Linked DNA regions of Homo sapiens. The protein of the gene in region 1 interacts with the protein of each later gene in a pairwise test. Each region holds a gene or a part of one and is shown in the gene's direction. Other genes may lie near its edges.

Evidence for each region. The genes of interacting proteins can lie anywhere in the genome.
Region 2: the proteins of FGFR3 (region 1) and PPARA interact in binary tests that used the Homo sapiens proteins (3 or more experiments, as listed by UniProt).
Region 3: the proteins of FGFR3 (region 1) and DPF1 interact in binary tests that used the Homo sapiens proteins (3 or more experiments, as listed by UniProt).
Region 4: the proteins of FGFR3 (region 1) and KRTAP19-7 interact in binary tests that used the Homo sapiens proteins (3 or more experiments, as listed by UniProt).

What each region holds. Positions count from the first base shown.
Region 1 is NC_000004.12:1,796,293-1,799,792, forward strand, and holds part of FGFR3 (fibroblast growth factor receptor 3 isoform 1 precursor), read left to right. Parts: intron 1-2,961; coding exon 2,962-3,231; intron 3,232-3,454; coding exon 3,455-3,500.
Region 2 is NC_000022.11:46,240,891-46,244,255, forward strand, and holds the end of PPARA (peroxisome proliferator-activated receptor alpha), read left to right. Parts: 3' UTR 1-2,865; downstream 2,866-3,365. UniProt on the Homo sapiens protein: Ligand-activated transcription factor. Key regulator of lipid metabolism. Activated by the endogenous ligand 1-palmitoyl-2-oleoyl-sn-glycerol-3-phosphocholine (16:0/18:1-GPC). Activated by oleylethanolamide, a naturally occurring lipid that regulates satiety.
Region 3 is NC_000019.10:38,217,723-38,221,222, reverse strand, and holds part of DPF1 (zinc finger protein neuro-d4), read left to right. Parts: intron 1-2,164; coding exon 2,165-2,292; intron 2,293-2,560; coding exon 2,561-2,650; intron 2,651-3,346; coding exon 3,347-3,425; intron 3,426-3,500. UniProt on the Homo sapiens protein: May have an important role in developing neurons by participating in regulation of cell survival, possibly as a neurospecific transcription factor. Belongs to the neuron-specific chromatin remodeling complex (nBAF complex).
Region 4 is NC_000021.9:30,560,375-30,562,458, reverse strand, and holds KRTAP19-7 (keratin-associated protein 19-7), read left to right. Parts: upstream 1-1,144; 5' UTR 1,145-1,169; coding exon 1,170-1,361; 3' UTR 1,362-1,584; downstream 1,585-2,084. UniProt on the Homo sapiens protein: In the hair cortex, hair keratin intermediate filaments are embedded in an interfilamentous matrix, consisting of hair keratin-associated proteins (KRTAP), which are essential for the formation of a rigid and resistant hair shaft through their extensive disulfide bond cross-linking with abundant cysteine residues of hair keratins.

The sequences.
Region 1 (3,500 bases):
AACCCTGGCAAGCCCTCTTTAGCCTGCCCAGCCTCCAGATCCCTTTTTTCCGGACTTTATTGTGAAACTCCAGGTGGGGAGACAGGGAGGCTGGACTTTTGGGGGCCCCCTCCTCTTAGGCTATTTTATAGCTCCTACCTGGCAATACCTCCTGTACCCCAGAGAGCTGCAGAGAACTTCATGTGCATCCGAAACCAGAATGTGTTGTTTCCTGACCCCAGGCCCTCATCTCACCCCAAAACCCAAATAAACCCCTGGGGCAGCCAGCTCCGGAAGCGAGTCTGGATTTGATCCTTGTTCTCTGGGGTCAACCCGAGGGGCTTATGATGGAGCAAGGCTCCCCCATCCTCTCAGCCATGCTCCCTCACATGCACTGGGCCTCCACTGCAGAGACCCAGAGCCTGGAGAAAGGTTCCCCAGGCCAGAGTTTGGCCGTCCCCAGCACCCTGCCTAATGGACATCAGTCTTGGGGCCAGAGACCCAGGGCAGGGAGCGCCTCTCACCCCTACCCTCACTCCTGCAGCCATTTCAGGGCCTGGTGCCCTCCCTGAGCTCCTGGGCCTGTGGGGTGGGATTTTTACTTTGTGCCACAGTGGGGGAAACTGAGGTACAGGACCAGTGAGTGGCAGAGTTGTGGAGACTCTGGGACACAGCAGAGGGCTGTCGTTGGCATGTGGAGCCCAAGTTGAGGTCGGCACTGTGTGGGGTTGGGGCGCCGGCAGGAGCACGTGTTGTGGGATCCATAGAAGGGTGGGAGGTGGGACGCGTTGCCTCCTACCCCGCCTTGGGTACAGCAGGAGTTTTGTCTCCAACGTGTTTGGGCACCAGTGTCTGTGTGGTGTCAGTGGGGCCTCCCTTTTGTGGATCAAGAAAGAAAGAACCCTTCCTAGGGCTGCTGGGGGGCTATAGCTCTCCCCATGCCTGGCAGCTGGGTGGGGTATGGGGGCTCCACCCAACTGCTGACTTCCCAGTGGGAGTCAGACCCTGAACTTATAGCACCCACTCATGCCCCGTGTCACACTGTCCTTCACCTGGTGCTCGCCACCCAGCCCCTGCTGGGGTACCCTGGCCTCTGCTGGCACCTAGCAGGCAGGCAGTGGGGGGGGCAGTCAGGGCTGCACCCTCCCCACCACACACGGGCAGATGGCCACTGGTGTGGCTGGCCTGGGGCTGCTGTGTCCCCCGTCCCCCCGTGCTGGACCAGGCTGAAGCAAATACTTGTGTGGATGGCTTGACCTGTTGTCGCCACTCAGACCAAACCGGAACCAACCGGCTGTTGCCCTTGGGCCAGGGCCTGCAGCTGAGGCTGCCATAACCAGCCTGTTCTCGGCCTTCTGGGGGGCCTCGAGCAGCTCCCAGCTCTGGGTGGTCCCCACAAGACACTGGCCAGGACCGGAGGGCTGGAGGTCAGGCCAGGAGCCCCCCTGACTGCGGGGTCCCTACAGGGGCAGTCCTTGAGCTGTGGGTCCCGGTGGGGCGAGGGCTCCTTCGGATGCTTCAGGGGATGAGTGTGGGCCCTTCTGGCTGGCAGGGTCACCCTGGGCACTAGGCGTGTGTGGCTGGATCAGGTGGGTTGGGCAGAAGAGGGCCTGGCCGGGCAGCCAGGGACTGGTGTGGCCAGAGTGGGCAGCTGGGCCCCCGAATCTAGGCCACGCGTCTGCAGAATGACAAGTGATGGCGCAACCCGCCCAGCTGGGTCTGAAGAAGGAGGCTGCCTGGGGGACCACCCACCCCCGTCCCGGCCCCAAGCCCGGGACGCCTGCCTGCATGCATTGTCTGGCCCTGGCAGGGAAGCCTAGGGGCGATTGTCCCCCCAGCCCTGCCCATGGTGTGTCCTTGGGTCACAGGCTTTGGTGGCTCTGGGGAGCTGGGCAGCTACTGGGGAGGGACCCAGGGGCCACCTGCACATCTGCCCCTGTGGGTGGGCCCCCACCCCAGCTTCTCAGCCCCCAGGGAGGGGCCAGGGCTGCTGACCTGCCCTGGCTCTCACAGCTTCCTGCCCCCAGCCTGGTCGTCCTCTGTGAGGGGGCCCCAGTCCCCCTGCAGGCAGCAGGACTCCACCCCCCGGCCCCCTTGAGGGCCCGCCTGGGCCTCCCCACTCCCCGGCCTGTGAGACCCACTTGGCCGGACCCAGCGCCGTGTTTGTACTTTGCTCTTCTCGGTATGTTTTCCGTCATGACCGCCGTGTGGAGCTTCCATAGGAGCTGCAGGATACAGAACCTTGCCCACCCCAAGGAGCCCCCACCCCCGCCCCGGCCCCCTCGCGCTGCTCCGGCCTGTGCTCTGACCGGTGAACCCGCGCATCGCCCCCCAGACCGTCCACACGGCCACGTGACCCTGCACCTCCTTCCTTCTCGCCTGTTCTGTTCCCTGGCTGTCCATCTGAACTGCTTTTCAGGCTCATATGGGGTGCGGGGGCTACTGAGGACGGACCCCTCCTGGGGTGAATCTGCACCACGAGGGGGCTGGCTGGCCAACCCTGGCACCCCCTCTGAGCTCCATTTCAGTCAGAGGCCAGCAAAGGGCAGCCTGTCCCCTTTGCCCGCAGCACCTGCCCGTCGTGGTGCCGCCTGTGAGACAAGCATGGATTTTATGTTTCCAAGCAATTGAACAAATTAAAAGAACGAAGAGTCACATTTTGTGACACTTTGAGATTTGAATTCTCCGTGTCCATGAGTGAAGCATCATGGGGCCACTGCTGTGGGGTTGGCTGCAGGTTGTGTGGGGAAGGCGGCTGTCACACCGAGGCAGACCGGAGTCCTTGGGACAGACTGGTTGGCAAAGCTGAAGATAGAGACCTTTGGCCCTTTTGGGACACAGTTTCCAGCCCCTGGTCTGGTGGGACCCTGGATCTGGGTCAGAGCCTTCCTCACTCAGGGCCGCCGAGGCTTCCACTGCTGTGTCTGTAAACGGTGCCGGGTTTGGGGGTGCCTGCCTCATGGTTGCCCATCTTCCCCACAGAAGTCCCGGGCCCAGAGCCCGGCCAGCAGGAGCAGTTGGTCTTCGGCAGCGGGGATGCTGTGGAGCTGAGCTGTCCCCCGCCCGGGGGTGGTCCCATGGGGCCCACTGTCTGGGTCAAGGATGGCACAGGGCTGGTGCCCTCGGAGCGTGTCCTGGTGGGGCCCCAGCGGCTGCAGGTGCTGAATGCCTCCCACGAGGACTCCGGGGCCTACAGCTGCCGGCAGCGGCTCACGCAGCGCGTACTGTGCCACTTCAGTGTGCGGGTGACAGGTGAGCTCTGGGGCCACGCCAGCTACAGAAAGGAGCCGAGTGCCGGGCTCCCTGAGTCCCTGCGTGGGTCAGGAGCGGCTGGGGGTCTCTCTGGTCATTGGTGGAGAGGAGGGCACCCCCAGGAAGTGCTGCCCAAATGGGGGACCCTGCCCCATCTGGGAGGGGCACCTGGGGGCCTCCTGGGGCAGGTTGGGCATTGGTTGCGGCCATCTCTGCCTTGCAGACGCTCCATCCTCGGGAGATGACGAAGACGGGGAGGACGAGGCTGA
Region 2 (3,365 bases), on another chromosome or scaffold:
TCAAGCCCATCTTCAGACGTCACAGTCTGGAAGTGAAATGTCCACAAACATCTGTGGCAGAAAAGGCTATACGGACCACCCAGTTGTGCTGCAGCTTTACAGAGCAAGGAAGGGTTGTGGCAAATAAATGATTAACCTGCCTCGACTGTGCTGAGGGCAACAAAGGCCATCTCACCAAAGGATTATTCGATGCCATTAAATCATCCCGTGACCTTCCTGCTTCCGAGTCCATGGCCTTTGCCCAGGGCATGTACTCCCCTGAGAGGCCTTCTGCCTAGAAAGATCTATGACTGGGTTCCAAAGTTGAGGCCTAGGTTTTTGCTGGGATTTAGATATTTTCAGGCACCATTTTGACAGCATTCAGGAAAACGGTTATTGACCCCATAGACTAGGGTAAGAATAAAGGCAATAAATTTGGTCTGACTCAGAATATAGGAGATCCATATATTTCTCTGGAAACCACAGTGTACACTAAAATGTGAAATTGAAGGTTTTGTTAAAAAGAAAAAGATAATGAGCTTCATGCTTTGTTTAATTACATAATGATTTCCATTACGCTATTTCTGTGAAATGCAGCAGGTTCTTAAACGTTATTTCAGTGGCATGGGCTGGAAGCTTATCACAAAAAGCCATGTGTGTGGCCTTATCAGAACAGAAAGAGACAGGCTGGTGCCCAAGGCTGCTGCCTGCTCCACCTTTTGCCAGCTCTGGACATCTGAGGACGTCCCGGCAGATCTGGAATGGGGCCCTCAACTGACCATTTGCTTCTCAGAATTTCAGTTTGAGACATGAGAGGTATAATCAGTTACTTTTCTCCCCCCAGAGAAACCCTTTTGTGAGGGGAGAGGAGCTATGGTATGTGGTTCAGCTGAAACACATACAACTGCATCCTTTTGGAGTCCTTTGCCAACAAAAACAGACCAACAGACCAGATGGTGTCCATGTTCAATATCATGTCTTGATGGACGCAGCTGATGACCTCAAATACTTGAGTGGTCTCATGGCTGTTAGATGGATTATTTGAAAAAAAAAAAAAAAAAAGAGAGAAAAAATAATTGATTTTTACATCAGAGATAGCAAACTAAGACCTGGGGAGGGGGGTCAGCTTTTATTTTATTTTATTTTTTTTAAGTTTGCTAGTTGGGTCAAATGTGAGGAGGAGGGAGTCTACCTGCCACCTCTTCTCTTGCCCCTCTTCTGCCCACACATCCAGCATCCAAAATCCATTCATTTAATGAATTGATAAAGTGCCGTGCAAACTGGTGCACAAACAGGCCCCCAGTCCACGCAGCCTGGCTCCTAGGAAAAGTGGTGACCGGGCGTGGGGGGGCATGCCGCAGCCCTGGGACACAGTCGGGCACCTTCCCCGGACCCCCAGGCCTTGGCTGTGCCTCAAGTCAGAGAGGGTCAGCCTTCAGGCCCCGGAGACGAGTGACTGGCCGATCATTTCACAATAAAATCACTCACTTTTGGCAACTTCACTTTTTTTAAGGCACAGTCAGTTCCTTTTCTCATGTACCTCACAAAAGATGAAGACCATGTAGTACTCTTTTTGGTAAAGTTACAGTGTTCATGTTAAATATCACTTTTTTCTACATTGTGTGGTAAAAAGAACTACGTTAATAGCTATATCTTAAATACTGTGATTTGACTTTTTGAAAAATATCCTAATACAAATATTTTACTAACTTACAATCACTCATTTAATAAGAAACATTTGGATTCTTTTGAAATCAGTGTTAATTGACTCATATTCTTAAAAGCCTGGCTCTTGACCCTATTGGAAACACAAAGGAAGCTGAAATCAAACATCTAAAATACACTGCGTACACGTGTGCGTGCACACACACACACACACACACACACACACAGCTCTTCATTTCTCCTGAGCCATGCAGAATTTACTTTCAATGTGGAAATCTGTTCCCTTTACCACACTGTATATGCACAGAGCACAAGAGAGGCTATCTCTAGTCACTTCCACCAGCGAGGCCTTAGACTCCGTATTAGAGGCCACCGATTTCATACAACAGTGTTTCGCTAAAGACCCTTCACTATTCTTGTTTAGTAAATAGCTGTCTGCTCTTCAGGGAACTGTTACCTATGGGTTATTACCAAAGAACGCTGGCAATTGGAAATGTCCTGATGGAAATTCTTTGCACGTGCCGGTTCTCTGGCATCCTCCAGGTGGCCCAACCCAAAGCAGAAAGCAGAAACCACAGACCCCGTGAGTCTCCCCATACCTTGTTTCCAATAACTTGGCAAAACTTCTTGGTGCATATTGGTTACACCCTCTGGGATTCATAATGCCATTAGGCTAAAACCCTAAGAGAGAGGGTTGACAGAAACACACGCGAGAATGAGGCAGATCCCAGAGCAAGGACTGGGCCCAGACTCTCCACATGTGCTCTACTAGTGAGTGCCTTATACTCTCAGTATTTTGGGGCTTACAGCTTCTTATTTGTGCTAAAAAGGTGCAGTTCCAAAGTAGGAACTGCCACACAGGCCCCAGCATCCTCTCTCCAACTTCATACCTCTCTCCTGGTGGGGGGAGCGGGCATCCAGGACCTCCGGAATCAAGGATGTGCAGAGAAGAGCGAAAGTAATTTTTCTAGTCACATGAACTGATTGGTTCCAGGCAATTAGAAAATGGCTATAAAATAACCTTAATTTTAAAAAAAAATCTTGGGTCTTCGTTTTCCTATTAGGAGACTGAACTGACCACATGTATTGATTTATATCCTGAATATATGGGAACTTCTGTGTTTGGGATGTCCTACTGTAAGACTGATGAATGTACAGAGTTAATTTCAGGGTACAGTTTTGCCTTAATGGTTTTAAAAAATAAACTATTTTTTAAAATTTTTTGGTGAGTTTTGAGTGATGCTGCGAGATGGACTGTTTGGTCTAAAAGAACCAAGTCCCCAGCTGTGGGGTCCGCCCTCCGCCAGAACAGTCCCTGCGCCCCTCATGGAGGCTGTCTCCACCTGCACAGTCCCTTTTGTGTCCTTCAACATACAGAATGGATCAAGGACAATCTGGCTCCGGAATACGACATCCTTTCGTCTGAAGTCACATACAACGGGAACTTTTAAAGCAGTGAGCATCTTAAAGTCCATCAGTGCACAAGTCAGTAAAAACTCTTTATTCATTCCTTCATGTGACAGTTGGCCTTGAGTAGTTACAAAGACAGAGCAGTTCCTGCCTCTCAGAATTCTAAGCAGACATTCCAGAGCTCACAGATCAGTGTCCCACCAGCTGCTACCCTGGAAGCTTCAGGGAGATGGGGAGCCTGGAGTAGGGGGGTGCTGCAGGAACCCCCGGCAGGCAGTGGGGCCAGGCTTCACAGGCACCCAGGGCTGAGT
Region 3 (3,500 bases), on another chromosome or scaffold:
GGTGTCTGCCTCTGTATCTCCCCAAGGGCGTCTGGATGTCTCAGTGTCTGGTTGGAGCTCTTTCCTCTCTTAGGTGTATCTTCCCAGGTGTCTCCAAGTGTCTTAGAAGGCTTGTGTCTTGTGTATGTCTGGTCTGTCAGGGTGTCCGGCTCCTCCCGAGTGTGTCTGGGTGTGTTAGGCGGTGCGGCCGTCTCTTTCTGTGGGTGTGTGGGTGCCTCGGAGTGTCTGGGAGAATCTTCCTGATGGTGTCTGGCGTATCAGGTGTATTTCTGCACGTGTGTGCCAGTCCATCAGAGGATCTGGACTTACCCTTGAATGTGTTTAGGAATATCGGGATCCTCGGGGTCAGTTTCTCTTCCTGAGTCCGAGGGTCTGTGTGTACCCAGGAGCGTGGCAGTGCCCACCTGGCTGTGTCTCTTCCTGTCTGTCTCCTGTGTGTGTTTGTGTGTATCTAGCTGAGTGATTCTCCCTGAGTATGTCGGTATCTCCCCGCTATGTGTCCAAGCATCTCATCTGGCTGTGTCTTCCCCAGGGTCTAGGTGTATCTGGAGGGCTAATTGTTTCTTTCTTTTTTTCTTTTTTCTTTTTCTTTTTCTTTTTTTTTTTTGAGACGGAGTCTTGCTCTGTCGCCCAGGCTGGAGTGCAGTGGCGCGATCTCACTGCAAGCTCCGCCTCCTGGGTTCACGCCATTCTCCTGCCTCAGCCTCCCGAGTAGCTGGGACTACAGGCGCCTGCCACTACGCCCAGCTAATTTTTTGTATTTTTAGTAGAGACGGGGTTTCACCGTGTTAGCCAGGATGGTCTCGATCTCCTGACCTCATGATCTGCCCGCCTCGGCCTCCCAAAGTGCTGGGATTACAGGCGTGAGCCACCGCACCCGGCCTCTTTCTTTCTTTCTCTTTCTTTCTTTCTTTCTCTTTCTTTCTCTCTCTCTCTTTTTCTTTTCTTTCCTTCCTTCCTTTCTTTCTTTCTTTCCTTCCTTCTTTCTTTCTTTCTCTCTCTTTCTTTTTCTTTTCTTTCCCTCCTTCCTTCCTTCTTCCTTTCTTTTTTTTTTTCACCCAGTTTGGAGTGCAGTGGCACGATCTCGGCTCACTGCAACCTCCGCATCCCGGGTTCAAGTGATTCTCTGCCTCAACCTCCTGAGTAGCTGGGATTACAGGCATGTGCCCCTACACCCGGCTAATTTTTGTATTTTTTTTTTTTTAAGTAGAGATGAGGTTTTACCATGTTGGCCAGGCTGGTCTCAAACTCCTGACCTCAAGTGATCCACCCGCCTCAGCCTCCTAAAGTGTTGGGATTACAGGTGTGAGCCAACGCGCCTGGCCAGCTAATTGTCTCTGAGCATTTCTGAGTGTACCCATGGGTCCAGCTATGTCTCCTCCCTGTGTCTGGGTGTCTCCAAGGATCTGGCTATACCTCTTTGAGTCTCTAGGCTGTATCTGAGAGTGTGGCTTATGCCTGTAATTCCAGCACTTTGGAAGGCCGAGGCAGAGGATCGCTTGAACTCAGGAGTTTGAGACCAGCCTGATTAACACGATGAAACCCCATCTCTACCAAAAATACAAAAATTAGCCCAGTGTGGTAGCATGCCAGCTACTCTGCCTGTAGTCCCAGCTACTCAGGAGGCTGAGGTGGGAGGATCACTTGAGCCTGGGAGTCGCAGTGAGCTGAGATTGCGCCACTGCACTCCAACCTGGGTGACAGAGCGAGACCCTGTCTCAAAAAAAAAAGAAAAAAGACAGCATGGCTGGGCCTCTTCCTTCCCGCATCTGTCTCAGACGATCTGTCTGGATGTCCCCTGCGGGTGTCCCTGTGTCTCCTCTGCGAGTGTCTGGATCTGTCCATATTTGTCTGGGTATGTTTGAGAGTCGCTGTGTCTTCCCTGAGTAGGTCTGGGTGTGCCTGATGGCCTAACTGTGTCTTTTTCTGAGGCTTTCTGGTGTATCCAAAGTTCTGACCGTGTCTCCTGCTGTGCATCCCAGGGCATCTGAGGGCGTGACTGGGTCTCCCCAGAGTCTGGGCCTCCCTCCTAGGGCATGTGGTTAAATCCTTGCCTCTGCAGCCTCTTCCCTCCTGCAAAGAGCATGGTCCCCCCACCTGCATAGTTTGAGGAGTCCTCCGGGGTCAACTTCCCCATCTGACCCCCCCATGGCCCTGTCCCCAGACTGTGAAGCACCCCTGAAGAAGGAGGGTGGCCTCCCGGAAGGGCCGGTCCTCGAGGCTCTACTGTGTGCAGAGACGGGGGAGAAGAAGATTGAGCTGAAGGAGGAGGAGACCATTATGGACTGTCAGGTGGGCCCACCTCTGGGGGACCCCCGCTGCATGGCTTCGTCTCACCCCTGCCTGCCACCAGCCCGGGCCCTCACGTTCCTGCTCTGAAACCCCCCCGGTTTCTTCTGGCTGTTGGGCATCCCAGTCACCATCCTCCCAGACTTCATCTCTATTTGGAAGAACTCCTGACTTATACTCTCACCCCCAATCTCCACCTTTGCCCAGAGCCCCTCAAAAGCAGGTCAGTGGCCCCCACTTTCTTGACCCGTCTCCTTTCTCTATTGCCCAGAAACAGCAGTTGCTGGAGTTTCCGCATGACCTCGAGGTGGAAGACTTGGAGGATGACATTCCCAGGAGGAAGAACAGGGCCAAAGGAAAGGTATCACCCCAAGCTTCTCCTCTTCCCCGCTCCCCTCAATGACAGGTCTCATTCATGGAGCAGGTGCAGTGGTCCGCCCCTGCCACAGTCTGACCTCAGTCTGACCTCATTGAATCCCCAGAGCGGCCTGCAGGGGTGGGGGATTTTATACCCATTTTACAGATGAGGAAACTGAGGCTCATCTGTATTAAGCCATTTGCAAAGCAGAGATTATGCAGTGGGTTAGAGCTACCTTCATCCCCATGCCACAGAGGAAGAAGCTGAACCTTGGAGAGGTTCAAGGCCCCACAGCTAGGACATTTGTACAGCTGCAATTTGAATTTGCAAAAGACACTGTTTTCTCACTTTCTTTTTTCTTTTTTTTCTTTTTTTTGAGACGGAGTCTCGCTCTGTCACAGGCTAGAGTGCAGTGGCGCAATATCTGCTCACTGCAACCTCCGCCTCCCGGGTTCAAGCGATTCTCCTGCCTCAGCCTCCCGAGTAGCTGGGACTACAGGCACGCGCCACCATGCCCAGCTAATTTTTCTATTTTTAGTAGAGACGGGGCTTCACCATGTTGGCCAAGGTGGTCTCGATCTCTTGACCTCGTGATCCGCCTGCCTCGGCCTCCCAAAGTGCTGGGATTACAGGTGTGAGCCACCACGCCTGGCCTGTTTTCTCACTTTCTTGGCCCCTCACTCCTGACTCTCCCCACAGGCATATGGCATCGGGGGTCTCCGGAAACGCCAGGACACCGCTTCCCTGGAGGACCGAGACAAGCCGTATGTCTGTGATAGTGAGTCCTTCTGAAGAGGGGGAAAGGCAGAGAGAGGGGTGCCCAGAGACTCCCCACCTCGTGGCCCTCTCCCTC
Region 4 (2,084 bases), on another chromosome or scaffold:
GTTTTGCACATTTACCTCAGTACTTAAAGTGTATATATACATACATACATGTATATATATATATATACATATATATATATATATAGCAGGAGTAGCTGAGCATATATGCTTACTGGTTTCATGTCATTTGCTTTTATTTATATTGATGATATGAAACAAAAATATAAGGCAGCTGGGCATTGTGGGAGAAGATATACCCTAACCTGCAATCTTTGATTTCAAATGCATCTGCTGAACTAAGGCCAATAATCAAAGTACTTAGGTTTTAGTCCTAATCTGCCACTAAGTTTCACTGTTGCGTAACTCTGCTTGTCTCTCTGAATCCATTTTTCTCATCAGTAACAAGAACACTGAAATAAATGATGACTCAAGTCTCTTTAATTCTATAATTATATGATCCTATGATAGTACGAAATTTAGAATCTAGACTAAGATTAAATTTGGGGAGAGGAAACTATTCATAAGGGATTGGCAGGGACTTTATGCACACTTTAATGGTATCTACTAAGCAGGCTGGCTCTACATGAAGCATAATATTTGAGAAATTCCTTTGACATTAATTTGTGACTCTTTTAAAAATTAAATATCATCATTCCACTATAAAATGTGGTTCCCAGCTGACTTTAAAAGCACATTGTATAAAGACATACATCATAGTTGATTGCCATTTCAGAGAACAATAATGTTTCAATTTTTGTGAATTCTTGGCAGAATAAAGATAACATCCTTGGCTTAGAAAAGGCTCAGCAGCCATGGACTGTCAAAGGAAAGAGTGCAATCAGAGGATAAATGTAATTGCATGAGATGCAATTTGAAGAATACTTGAAGCTATAGAGATTTGTTTATGGCATTTGAAACTCAGAAACTCATACATGTACAGTGAATATAAATGCAACTACATTTTATTAGAGGCAAAACACTTATCTAGAAATCCAAATAAAGCAGAAAATAAAACATGTTGTATAATTTCTAAATAACTAGCTTCATAAACAAGGAAGAGAGTGGGATGGGTGTTACAAAACAAGATAGTTGGCATAGTTTTCAGGTAACACGTTCTAAGGGATGACATTTAAAGGTGTGGCTTTCCACATGCATCAGAGTATATATAAATGTTCCTGTCCAGTCACAGTCACCAAACTGACCTACAACAGCTAACCACTTCTGACAACATGAGCTACTCCGGCAGCTACTATGGAGGCCTAGGCTACGGCTGTGGAGGATTCGGTGGCCTGGGCTATGGCTATAGCTGTGGATGTGGCAGCTTCCGCAGACTGGGCTATGGCTGTGGCTATGGAGGCTACAGATACAGCTGCTGCCACCCATCATGCTATGGGGGATACTGGTCTTCTGGATTCTATTGAATAAATACTTGAAATATAGTCTTCTGTGAGATTCCCAATTCTTCCAAGAAACTTTATTCCATAACCATATGGAATTCCATATTCCATAACAAAACAGCTGCTTGGATCACCTGCCTTTTGACAATAGTGTGAAGAAAACTTGATCAACTAGATATTGGCATTTGATTAGTGATGTTCTCCAGATATTCACTTTTTTATTGGCTGGAGAGCCATTATACTCTAAGAAAGATTGTCTTTCAATATCTGATATCTAACCATGAACTTTTTCTCATGTGGTAAATGTGTTTTGAGCCTCAAATTTTTATCACAATAAATGTGCTGTGATGCATTAATATAATCAACCATGGTGATATTTTCTTCTTATAGATAAAAAAATTACCAATACGTTATATGTCACGATTATTTCTTCACCCTCCTCCTCCTCGTCATTCTTCCTGTCCCTTAAACCTTCTTCCTCCCTTTCCATCCCTTTCCTCTCCTTTATCTTCTTTTCTTTATCCCCTTCTCCTTTGTCTTCTTCCTCCTCCTCATCTTTAACATTCTCAATATCTATATTTTCTTGTCCAGGCAAACAGGAATTCTACACCAAAAGGTTAAAGATGCTTCTGTGGTGATAAACTTCTGCTTAATCTTTTAATTCACTATTTCTTGGAGAATATCTTGATAATTTCAGAGCAATATAATAAGAAAAGGTTTTAGCTTGCACATAGATTATAACATTGG